Linked DNA regions of Homo sapiens. The protein of the gene in region 3 purifies or fractionates together with the protein of the main gene of each other region. This does not show direct contact. Each region holds a gene or a part of one and is shown on either strand. Other genes may lie near its edges.

What was found.
Region 1: the proteins of SGK1 (region 3) and IARS1 purify together in Homo sapiens (affinity purification with mass spectrometry, with the first as the bait; one large-scale study listed by BioGRID). This does not show direct contact.
Region 2: the proteins of SGK1 (region 3) and FKBP5 purify together in Homo sapiens (affinity purification with mass spectrometry; 3 studies listed by BioGRID and IntAct, with this or other methods). This does not show direct contact.

The regions. Positions count from the first base shown.
Region 1 is NC_000009.12:92,287,143-92,290,795, forward strand, and holds part of IARS1 (isoleucine--tRNA ligase, cytoplasmic), read right to left. Parts: intron 2,285-3,653; 5' UTR 2,278-2,284; coding exon 2,159-2,277; intron 1,141-2,158; coding exon 984-1,140; intron 832-983; coding exon of another isoform or gene 769-831; coding exon 649-768; intron 1-648. UniProt on the Homo sapiens protein: Catalyzes the specific attachment of an amino acid to its cognate tRNA in a 2 step reaction: the amino acid (AA) is first activated by ATP to form AA-AMP and then transferred to the acceptor end of the tRNA.
Region 2 is NC_000006.12:35,573,838-35,577,490, reverse strand, and holds part of FKBP5 (peptidyl-prolyl cis-trans isomerase FKBP5), read left to right. Parts: intron 1-257; coding exon 258-497; intron 498-1,548; coding exon 1,549-1,656; 3' UTR 1,657-3,653. UniProt on the Homo sapiens protein: Immunophilin protein with PPIase and co-chaperone activities. Component of unligated steroid receptors heterocomplexes through interaction with heat-shock protein 90 (HSP90).
Region 3 is NC_000006.12:134,308,004-134,311,656, forward strand, and holds part of SGK1 (serine/threonine-protein kinase Sgk1), read right to left. Parts: intron 1-3,653. UniProt on the Homo sapiens protein: Serine/threonine-protein kinase which is involved in the regulation of a wide variety of ion channels, membrane transporters, cellular enzymes, transcription factors, neuronal excitability, cell growth, proliferation, survival, migration and apoptosis.

The DNA.
Region 1 (3,653 bases), on a different chromosome or scaffold from region 3:
CATTGTCACCAAAAATGCATAACCTAAATTAAATCAGGAAACCTCACACATTGAGAGACATTATAGAAAATAGCTGTTCTGCAATCTTCAAAAGTGAGAAGGCCATGAAATACAAAGGACTAAATAAATGTTCCATACTTAAGAAGACTAAAAAGACATGACAACCAAATGCAATATGTGATTGGTCAGAAATAAAAATTAATGGGGCAACTGCTTTTGAAAATTCTATTAATATTATGGTTACCGAAGATGTTAGCAGCTGGGAAAGATGGATGAAGGATATAGGGGAACCCATCATACTACTTTTTCAATTGTTTAATAAGTCAAATTATTTCAAAATGAAAAGTTAAAAAAATTGAAAAAAGTATTTGAGAAAAAAAGAAAAGGCCTATATATCATGTTATACTTATTAGAATTTTTCCCTATTGGTGATCATGCAAGAAAGTTAGACCAATTAAGCACACAGAAGTCAGAAGAGAGATGGTTCAGTTTAAGCTAACCGTTTAAGTAATAGGGTTGAAGGTGGAAGCTAACACTTTTTCTACAAAAAATAAATTAATAAAAAAAGCACAAGGGACCATAAACCATTTCAATGCCCATTTAGTAACTACATTTGCTGTTCATTCTACTGAAAAAAACCCAACATACCTTCCACTCAGCAGAATATCTCATCACAATTGCTCGGCACTGATTGTTATACTCTGTAATCCCCATTTTGGCCACATCCTCTGGTCCTCTGATTCCCAGTGTCTTATCAATTTCATATTCCTGAAAATTTGTGATAAGACTGTTACCACGCTGCCCTATGAAAACAACTGCAACTATGCAACTCTAGAAAACAAAACAAATCAAACTACAAATATTATAGAAATGAACTAGAAGGTCTGACAGTCAACGTTCATCATACTTGAACATATTATATGACAAAATCTAATGCTTATAAAAAAAATCAGAAAATTATAAAGCTGGATACTCAAACATACCACAGGTAAGCCATGGCAATCCCATCCAAATCTTCTGTCAACATGAAACCCACTCTGGTGAGCATATCTTGTAACTATATCTTTAATTGTACCCGCAAGTATATGTCCATAGTGAGGCAGTCCAGTTGCAAAAGGAGGACCATCATAGAAGGTAAATCTAACAGGTAATAAAAATATATCAAGCCATTTAAAAACAGCCAAAATTTAAGGCATTTTTCTATAGATAGCTCTTGTCATAGTGGAGTCTTCAAGGAGAAAAGCAGCAAGATCAGGAAACCGACAGACATAATTGATTTGATATTTACTGGTGGTCCTGCCTTCAGAAAGGCTACAATTGTGGTAGAGCTACAGAGACCTCCATTTGATTATCCATTTTTCATTTATTAGTTCCATGACATAAGGCAAATTATTTATCCTGATCTTGAGTTATCTCATCAGTAAAATAGGGCAATAAACCCCTATCTCATAGTTTTTGACCAGAGGAGACATATAATGAAAACACTGATTAAAGGACTAGTCTTTTAGGTGAATGAGGACTAAAGGCAGGTAGTACTATAGTAGCCTTCTATGGGGTACTTAGGTATAAGTGCCTAAACGAGGGTGGTGATGAAAATAAAGGTGGAAAGAGGGTGACACGGAGGATGACACATAAATTTTACTCAGATGACCTTTTAAAGAAACAAAATTTACCCCAATAATTGAGAACTCATTCATTCAATGTATATCTACTACTGAGTACCCACTACATAGGGAGCTGGGGGATTCTGGGAATAGAAAGATTAATAAAGAGTATCTGCTTTAGGCCGCGCGTGATGGCTCACACTTGTAATCCCAGCACTTTGAGAGGCCGAGGTGGGTGGATCACTTGAGGTCAGGAGTCCGAGACCAGCCTGGGCAACATGGTGAAACCCCGTCTCTACTAAAACACAAGAATTAGCTGGTGTGATGGCGGGCACCTGTAATCCCAGCTACTCGGGAGGCTGAGGCAGGAGAATCACTTGCATCCGGGAGGCAGAGGTAGCAGTGAGCAGAGATTGCACCACTGCCCTCCAGCCTGGATGACAGTGCGAGACTCCATCTCAAAAAAAAAAAAAAAAAAAAAGTATCTGCTTTAATGGAATTCAGTCTAAGAAATGACTATTCTTAAGGGAACTTAACCTAAAAAATTCACATACTTTGGTTTATGTTTTGATTGCTTTAAGCATTCCTGAAAACAATTAAATTCAGTCCAAAACTCCAAGATTTTCTCTTCTTCAGCAGGAAAATTTATGTTTTCTGGAACTTGTTGAAGCATTTTGTTGCTGCAAAAGAAATCAAATTTATTACTGTCAAAAGAGAAATCTAGGAATAACAGAGTACCATATTATTAACATGGGTGTACATGACACTATCCATACTTTTAAAAAATTACAGCTTTATTGATGTACAATTTACATAGTGTAATGTAAAAAGTGTACAATTCAGTGGCTTTTTAGTATATTTACAAGGTAGTATAACTAGTAATACCTAATTTCAAAACGTTTTCAACCTCCCCTCCCCACCAAAACACCCCAAAACCATTAGCAGTCACTCCCCATTCTTTCTTCTCCATAGCCAGTGGCAACGATTTATCTTCTTTCTGTCCCTGCAGATTTACCTATTCTGGACATTTCATATAAATGGGAAAATTTATAGGAATCATCTATATGTGGCCTATTGCATCTGGTTTCCTTTCTCTAGCATGTTTTCAAGGCTCATCCATGATGTAATATGTATTCATACTTCATTACTTTTGATAGCTGAATAGTATTCCATTTCATGAATATGCCACATTTTGTTTATCCATTCATCATTTCTTGGATACCTGTATTGTTTCCACTTTTTGGTTATTACGAATAACGCTGCTATGAACATTCACATACAAAATTTTGTGTGGATCTATGTTTTCATTTCTCTTGGGTTTGTAGCTAGAAGTAGAATTTCTGGGTCACATGATAATTCTGTATTTAACTTTTTGAGAAAATGCCAAAATTTTTCCAAAGTGACTGTACTATTTTACATTCCCTCAGCAGTGAATGAGGATTCTAATTTCTTCAGATCTTACCCAACACATCTTATTGTCCATCTTTGAATTACAGTCATTCTAGGAGATGTTAAGTAGTATCTTGTGGTTTTGATTTGCATTTCCCTAAGGACTAATGATGCTGAGCATCTTTCCACATGCTTATTGGCCATTTGCGTATCCACGTTGGATAGATATTTATCCTTTGCCTATTTTCTAATTGGGCTCTTTTTGTGGTTGGGTTTTAAGGGTTATGTATACATCCTGGATACAAATCCTTTATCAGATATATGATTTATAAAAAATTTCTCCTGTTCTGTGGGCCGTCTTTTTATTTTCTTGATGGCATTTTTTGAAGCACAAAGATTTTTCATTTTAATGATGCCCAATTTGTCAATTTTTGGTTTTGCTGCTTGAGCTTTTGGTGTCATCAATAAACCATTACCTAAACAAGGTTATAGATTTTTCGCTTACATTTAGGCCACAAATAATTTTATTTTCGTATATGGTGTGAGGGAGGGGTACATGGCTATTATTTAATATTCAGTAATGGTAGAGACAATGTTTCCAAAAGTAAGCAGGAAAATCTTGGAAATTCTATCTAGTGGTGCAAAAAACTCATTAATAAT
Region 2 (3,653 bases), about 99 Mb from region 3:
CACTTATTTGTTCCAATGAACTTTAAAATGAACTTCTCAAGAGCCCCCTCTCAAATCTCCTTGGGATCTTTCTAGAAATTGCATTAAATGCAGAAAATAATTTGGGTAGTAAATTTTGATCAGTAGTATGTAATTATCTTGAGCCCCATTTTTTTAAATACACTTTTTCCATCTCCTTTGGCAAGAGAACTTTGGTAAGCTGTTTACTGAATTTATTAAAATTCGTCCTTTCTAAAATATAGACCATCTATTCCTAGGCCCTTGGACTGGACAGTGCCAATGAGAAAGGCTTGTATAGGAGGGGTGAAGCCCAGCTGCTCATGAACGAGTTTGAGTCAGCCAAGGGTGACTTTGAGAAAGTGCTGGAAGTAAACCCCCAGAATAAGGCTGCAAGACTGCAGATCTCCATGTGCCAGAAAAAGGCCAAGGAGCACAACGAGCGGGACCGCAGGATATACGCCAACATGTTCAAGAAGTTTGCAGAGCAGGATGCCAAGGTGTGTGCAGAGCCTGATGACTGCAGGTGGATCAAGAGCCTGACCATGCCCCTTTGATTTTAGGGGACAGGAACAGCTAAACAACCCAAGAGGCTCAAGAGCAGGGAAAACGATTTCCAATCTAATCTGAGGCTGCTTTGGATCCAAAGGTCGAGTAGGGCAGTTCCAGTCACCAAAGGCACACGTCATGAGAGATGAGAAAACTAAATTCCCTTCAGATGTATTAGATTGGTTCAAAAGTAATTGTGGTTTTTACCATTACTTTCAATGGCAAAAACAGCAATTTTGCACCAACTCCCCCCGCCCGCCCCCCGGGCCCCTGCCCGAGTCAGAGTCTCACTCTGTCACCCAGACTGTAATGCAGTCGTGCTAACATGGCTCACTGCAGCCTTGACTTCTCTGGATCAAGTGATCCTCCCACCTCAGCCTCCTGAGTAGCTAGGACAAGCACACTACCACACTGGGCTAATTTTTTAAAATTTTTTGTAAAGATAGGGTTTCACTTTGTTGTCTAGGCTGGTCTCGAACCCCTGGCTTCAAGGGTTCCTCCTGCTTTGGTCTCCCAAAGTGCTGGGATTATAGACATGAGCCACCATGCCCAGCCCTTTTGTCATTTTTGAAAAATTGTAAACCCATCAGGATTTTTTTTTCAAGTAAGACTTACGATTTTCCCAGGAAATGGGATGTTATAGGAGCCCCATCATCACACCTGTTATCTTGAGGGTCGGCAGCCAGCCTGAAAAATGTGGCAGGAGAGGTCTGTCTGCAGAGAGGGCGGCCTCCCTACAGCATAGTTGGCATTCTGGTCCTGTCCCCAGTCTCCAGGAATGCCCAGACTTCATTATCCCACAGCTGTCCCATGTGTCAACCAAAGAAAGGTGAAGCTCCCACTCTAACTATTGGTAGCACAGCCCTGACCTACCCAGCTAGATATCCTAGAGAAAATCATTGCAATACCTCGTGTTTGGGACCTGATACACAGTCTGGAGGAGCCAGGAATTATTTCACTTCTTTATTCTCTAACCTTCTTGATTGCTTATTTCTTCCTTAGGAAGAGGCCAATAAAGCAATGGGCAAGAAGACTTCAGAAGGGGTCACTAATGAAAAAGGAACAGACAGTCAAGCAATGGAAGAAGAGAAACCTGAGGGCCACGTATGACGCCACGCCAAGGAGGGAAGAGTCCCAGTGAACTCGGCCCCTCCTCAATGGGCTTTCCCCCAACTCAGGACAGAACAGTGTTTAATGTAAAGTTTGTTATAGTCTATGTGATTCTGGAAGCAAATGGCAAAACCAGTAGCTTCCCAAAAACAGCCCCCCTGCTGCTGCCCGGAGGGTTCACTGAGGGGTGGCACGGGACCACTCCAGGTGGAACAAACAGAAATGACTGTGGTGTGGAGGGAGTGAGCCAGCAGCTTAAGTCCAGCTCATTTCAGTTTCTATCAACCTTCAAGTATCCAATTCAGGGTCCCTGGAGATCATCCTAACAATGTGGGGCTGTTAGGTTTTACCTTTGAACTTTCATAGCACTGCAGAAACCTTTAAAAAAAAAATGCTTCATGAATTTCTCCTTTCCTACAGTTGGGTAGGGTAGGGGAAGGAGGATAAGCTTTTGTTTTTTAAATGACTGAAGTGCTATAAATGTAGTCTGTTGCATTTTTAACCAACAGAACCCACAGTAGAGGGGTCTCATGTCTCCCCAGTTCCACAGCAGTGTCACAGACGTGAAAGCCAGAACCTCAGAGGCCACTTGCTTGCTGACTTAGCCTCCTCCCAAAGTCCCCCTCCTCAGCCAGCCTCCTTGTGAGAGTGGCTTTCTACCACACACAGCCTGTCCCTGGGGGAGTAATTCTGTCATTCCTAAAACACCCTTCAGCAATGATAATGAGCAGATGAGAGTTTCTGGATTAGCTTTTCCTATTTTCGATGAAGTTCTGAGATACTGAAATGTGAAAAGAGCAATCAGAATTGTGCTTTTTCTCCCCTCCTCTATTCCTTTTAGGGAATAATATTCAATACACAGTACTTCCTCCCAGCATTGCTACTGCTCAGCTTCTTCTTTCATTCTAATCCTTGCTATTAAGAATTTAAGACTTGTGCTTACAATATTTTTGACCTGGAGTGGATCTATTTACATAGTCATTTAGGATCCATGCAGCTTTTTTTGTCTTTTTAAGATTATTGGCTCATAAGCATATGTATACTGGTTTATGGAACTTTATTTACACTCCTCTATCATGCAAAAAAATTTTGACTTTTTAGTACTAAGCTTAATTTTTAAAAACAAAATCTGTAGGGTTGACAAATAAATAGTTGCTCTTCTACACTAGGGGTTTCACCTGCAGGTTTGACACGCAGTTGCTCGCTTTTCCTGCCCTGTCAAGCTTCTCTGTTCTGGCGTGAGTTGTGAAAGAGTTGAAGACAGCTTCCCATGCCGGTACACAGCCAGTAGCCTAAATCTCCAGTACTTGAGCTGACCATTGAACTAGGGCAAGTCTTAAATGTGTACATGTAGTTGAATTTCAGTCCTTACGGGTAAACAGATTGAGCATGGCTCTCTATTCCCTCAGCCTAAGAAACACTCATGGGAATGCATTTGGCAACCCAAGGAACCATTTGCTTAAACCTGGAACATCTCACCTTTTTAAATCCTAAAAAACACTGGCAGTTATATTTTAAATTAGTTTTTATTTTTATGATGGTTTTATCAAAAGACTTTTATTATTAGATTGGGACCCCCTTCAAACCTAAAAATCAAGTTATTTCCTTTTATAATACTTTTCTTCCCCATGGAACAAATGGGATCAATTTGTGAGTTTTTTCCTTTAATGATAACTAAAATCCCTCTAATTTCTCATTTATGCTTTTGTCTTTTTTATGAAATATTTCTTTTAAAAGCCCCAGTCTCACCTACGAAATATGAAGAGCAAAAGCTGATTTTGCTTACTTGCTAAACTGTTGGGAAAGCTCTGTAGAGCATGGTTCCAGTGAGGCCAAGATTGAAATTTGATACTAAAAAGGCCACCTAGCTTTTTGCAGATAACAAACAAGAAAGCTATTCCAAGACTCAGATGATGCCAGCTGTCTCCCACGTGTGTATTATGGTTCACCAGGGGGAACTGGCAAAAGTGTGTGTGGGGAGGGGAAGGGTGTGTGAG
Region 3 (3,653 bases):
TCTAGGTTTCAGAGAAGCTATGTGAGGCTGTGAAGAGGATTCTTTTTTAATGTCTTTATTTTTATACTACCCCTCCACAGCCTTACCCCAATCTTTTAAACCACACCGGAAGCTATGTACTCATCGTTTTTTTCCTGTAATTTTTTTTACAGTACAACCTAAATAAATACTGGCCCAGAAAGATTCAGAGTTCAAAGAAAATTCAGCTGCTTTCGGAAAGATCATTCTATGGGAAAGATCACATTTCTGAGTAATAAACATTATAAATACATATTCCGATTTATTTTTAATTCTCAAACTATTAACTTTCATTTTTCCCCTCTGGCATATTTTAATTTTTGTCCTACAGGGACTTGAGTCTAAATATGTTTTAACAATTTGGGGGACTTTTCTTTTTTCACCTTGCTATTTCTAGAGACTAAAATCTTTGAGCTACCAAGGTCTTTCAAACTGGCTGATGTCACTCTAACAAACTCAGAGATAGCAAGATGTTCCTTAAGCCACTGGGTTAGAACGAGAATCCTTTGTTTTCTATGGGCACAATCCTAGGAATGTTTCTTCTCTTTTTTTTGAGACAGAGTCTCTCTCTGTCACCCAGCCTGGCGTGAAGTGGTGCCCTCTCAGCTCACTGCAACCTCCACCCCCCGGGTTCAAGTGATCCTCCTGCCTCAGCCTCCTGAGTAGCTGGGATTACAGGTGCACGCCACCACACCCTGCTAATTTTTGTATTTTTAGTAGAGACAAGATTTCACCGTGTTGGCCAGGCTGGTCTCAAACTCCTGACCTCAGGTGATCCACCCGCCTCAGCCTTCCAAAGTGCTAGGATTACAGGCGTTTGCTACCGTGCCCGGCAAGCCTAGGAATATTTCACTTCATGCTTTTCTCTTTTGCCTTGCTGTGAGCTTATCCTCCAGAGACAACAGAGAGAGAGAAAGAGAGAGAGACAGGAGAGAGAAAGTGGAAGAACCACATGACCAGTCATTTCCCGAAGCAAATGGCGTTTTGGGTGAATGCCCTGACCTAGGAGGGAAAAAGAGGCCAAGGTTACCCTAATGTTACAGAAGTAGCTAAGTGAATTCTTCTCCGAAAAACGTCACAGCAGGCTCTAGAAAGCAATTAGAGTAATATTTTGGCACCTCGAACTACCAAATAGAAGATTCCTCTACTGCTCTAGTTACATCTTTGATTTTCATTTCCCTTTGTTGTAAATACTTACAATGTCATTTCAGAATGCTGCAGAGAAATAGATGTGAGAGTAAACAAACTATAATAATAATCCTTTCTCCACATGCCATGGCAGCTGCAGGAGGAGGCCAACGCAGCACCGAACTTGCCTTACTGTCTGCTTTTCCTGTCCTCCTCCTCCTGCACCTCCTTCACCTCCTCCACCTCCTTCTCCTCCACTTTCCCACATGGTCTTTTATAAATTTGCCAGCATCACTGTGCAGTTTGCCAGAGAAACCTGGCCACTTGCTGGGTAAGCCTGCTCTTAGACCAAGGACCAGGGTAGGTCACTGCTGCTGTCCTCATTTCTGGGCCAGAAGGATTCACTGAGAGTGAGGTCCAGAACCACCTGCTTTCCCATTACAGAGGATGTGGATCTCTATAGAGACACTGCGTATCCCTTCAGTTAAAGCTCTTCGAAGACTCTTTTTACCCTGCGAGCTGAACTTTCTTGAGCCCCATAGAATGGATAAAAATCTTCATCCCCAGGTTGGTGAGGAGCCAATGATTTCACGCTCAAACAAGCTGACAAGCTAGGAATCCTAGCTTTCCTTAGCAGGCAGGAAACAGCATCCCACTCATAAGTCAGGAGTCTTTTCTGCCAATGTTAGGAATGTTGATATTTACCTTTATTTTTGGACTTATTTCTAAAAAAAATTAACTAGTATGTAAAAAAAAATCACACTTTAAAAATATGCTTCTACAATATTTGCTCTAGCGAACTATCTTTAGCTTGACCTAAATTACTAATTAAACTTTTCTATTGATCCAATTCCCATTACTGTTCCTGCCTTTATGCTTTCATATTCGGAAATCTCCAACATGCATTTTGATGGCTCCACCCCCCACGTTCCTCACTCCTGCCCCCTCATTTTGGTTTTGCTTTACCTTGTTAAGCACTTACAGATCATAAAATATGGGTGAGCTCAGAATATCTCTTACTCCAGTGTTACATATGGCACCCGCATTTCAGCACCAGCCCTTTAAAAAATGGTGCAGAATTTCAAGGAACTCAGCTACACTTTCCATTCAAAATCCCTCCCAAGCACTGTAGCTAAGAGCCTATCTCAGGATTTTCTTGAGAGCTGCTGGGGAGGCAAAATATCTATCTAACGAAAATGGCTCATCATCCACATTCTGCAGTACTGAGACTAATTCCCCAGCACTGCCAAACCTAGACTGCTGAACTCCCTCATCCAAACTCTCTAAGACTTAGTGGTCAAAGTGCCAAAGGCATCCGTCTTACTCACACTCTGTGGCTCCTAAGACCATGCTGAAAAGTGAGGATAAGTAATAATTGAAAGACATTTTTAGGATTCTAGTTGGGAGGATACATAATGCAGATACTATATAGTTTTTGTTTGTTTGTTTGTTTTTTGAGATGCTGTCTCACTGTGTTATCCAGCCTGGAGTACAATGGCGTGATCTTGGCTCACTGCCACCTCCGCCTCCCAGGTTCAAGTGACTCTCCTGCCTAGGCCTCCTGAGAAGCTGGGATTACAGGTGCCCACCACCACTCCCAGCTAATTTTTGTATTTTTAGTAGAGACGGGATTTCACCATGTTGGCCAGGCTGGCCTCAAACTCCTGACCTCAGGTGATCTGCCTGCCTTGGCCTCCCAAAATGCTGGGATTAAAGGTGTGAGCCACTGTGCCCAGCCTACTATATATTACTGAAGTTAGTAATTCATATTAATGCAAAATAAAAGGAGATTAGTGAATCACTGCTACGTCTGTCTTGTTTGGCCTGACAAGAAAAGTATCATAGAAGAGAAGGTGTGTTATGGGCATTGGATCAGCAAATAAGCTGAGGTCAAGCTTCCCTAAGTACCCACCAGCTCTGAAGGGGAAGTGACAGCTTGTCTTTGAGCCAGATTTAGGTTACATTTCAGTCTTAATTTATATCTAATCCATATCTAAACATAGAGAGAAATAAAATGCATTAGATTTCTGAGCCACCAAAGCCTGTTTAAAGGAAGACGGAGGAGGAAGGAGAAGAGGGCAATGACTTAGGGGCAAGTAATAGAAGGATTTGTTCTTTTATTTTATGCATTCTTTTATTCAACAAATATGTTTTGACAAGTAGGGGATACAGTGAACAAGGTAACTGGTTTTCTGTCCTTAAAGACCTTCCAGCCAGTTGTGGTGGCTCATGCTTGTAATCCCAGCACTTTGGGAGGCCAAGGCTTGTGGATCACCTGAGGTCAGGAGTTGGAAACCAGCCTGGCCAACATGGTGAAACCCTGTCTCTACTAAAAAAAAAAATACAAAAAAATTAGCTGTGCATGGTGGTGCACACCTGTAATCCCTGCTACTCAGGAGGCTGAGGCAGGAGAATTGCTTGAACCTAGGAGCCAGAGGTTGCAGTGAGATGAGATGGTGCCACTGCACTCCAGCCTGGGTGACAGAGTGAGACTGTATGAAAAAACA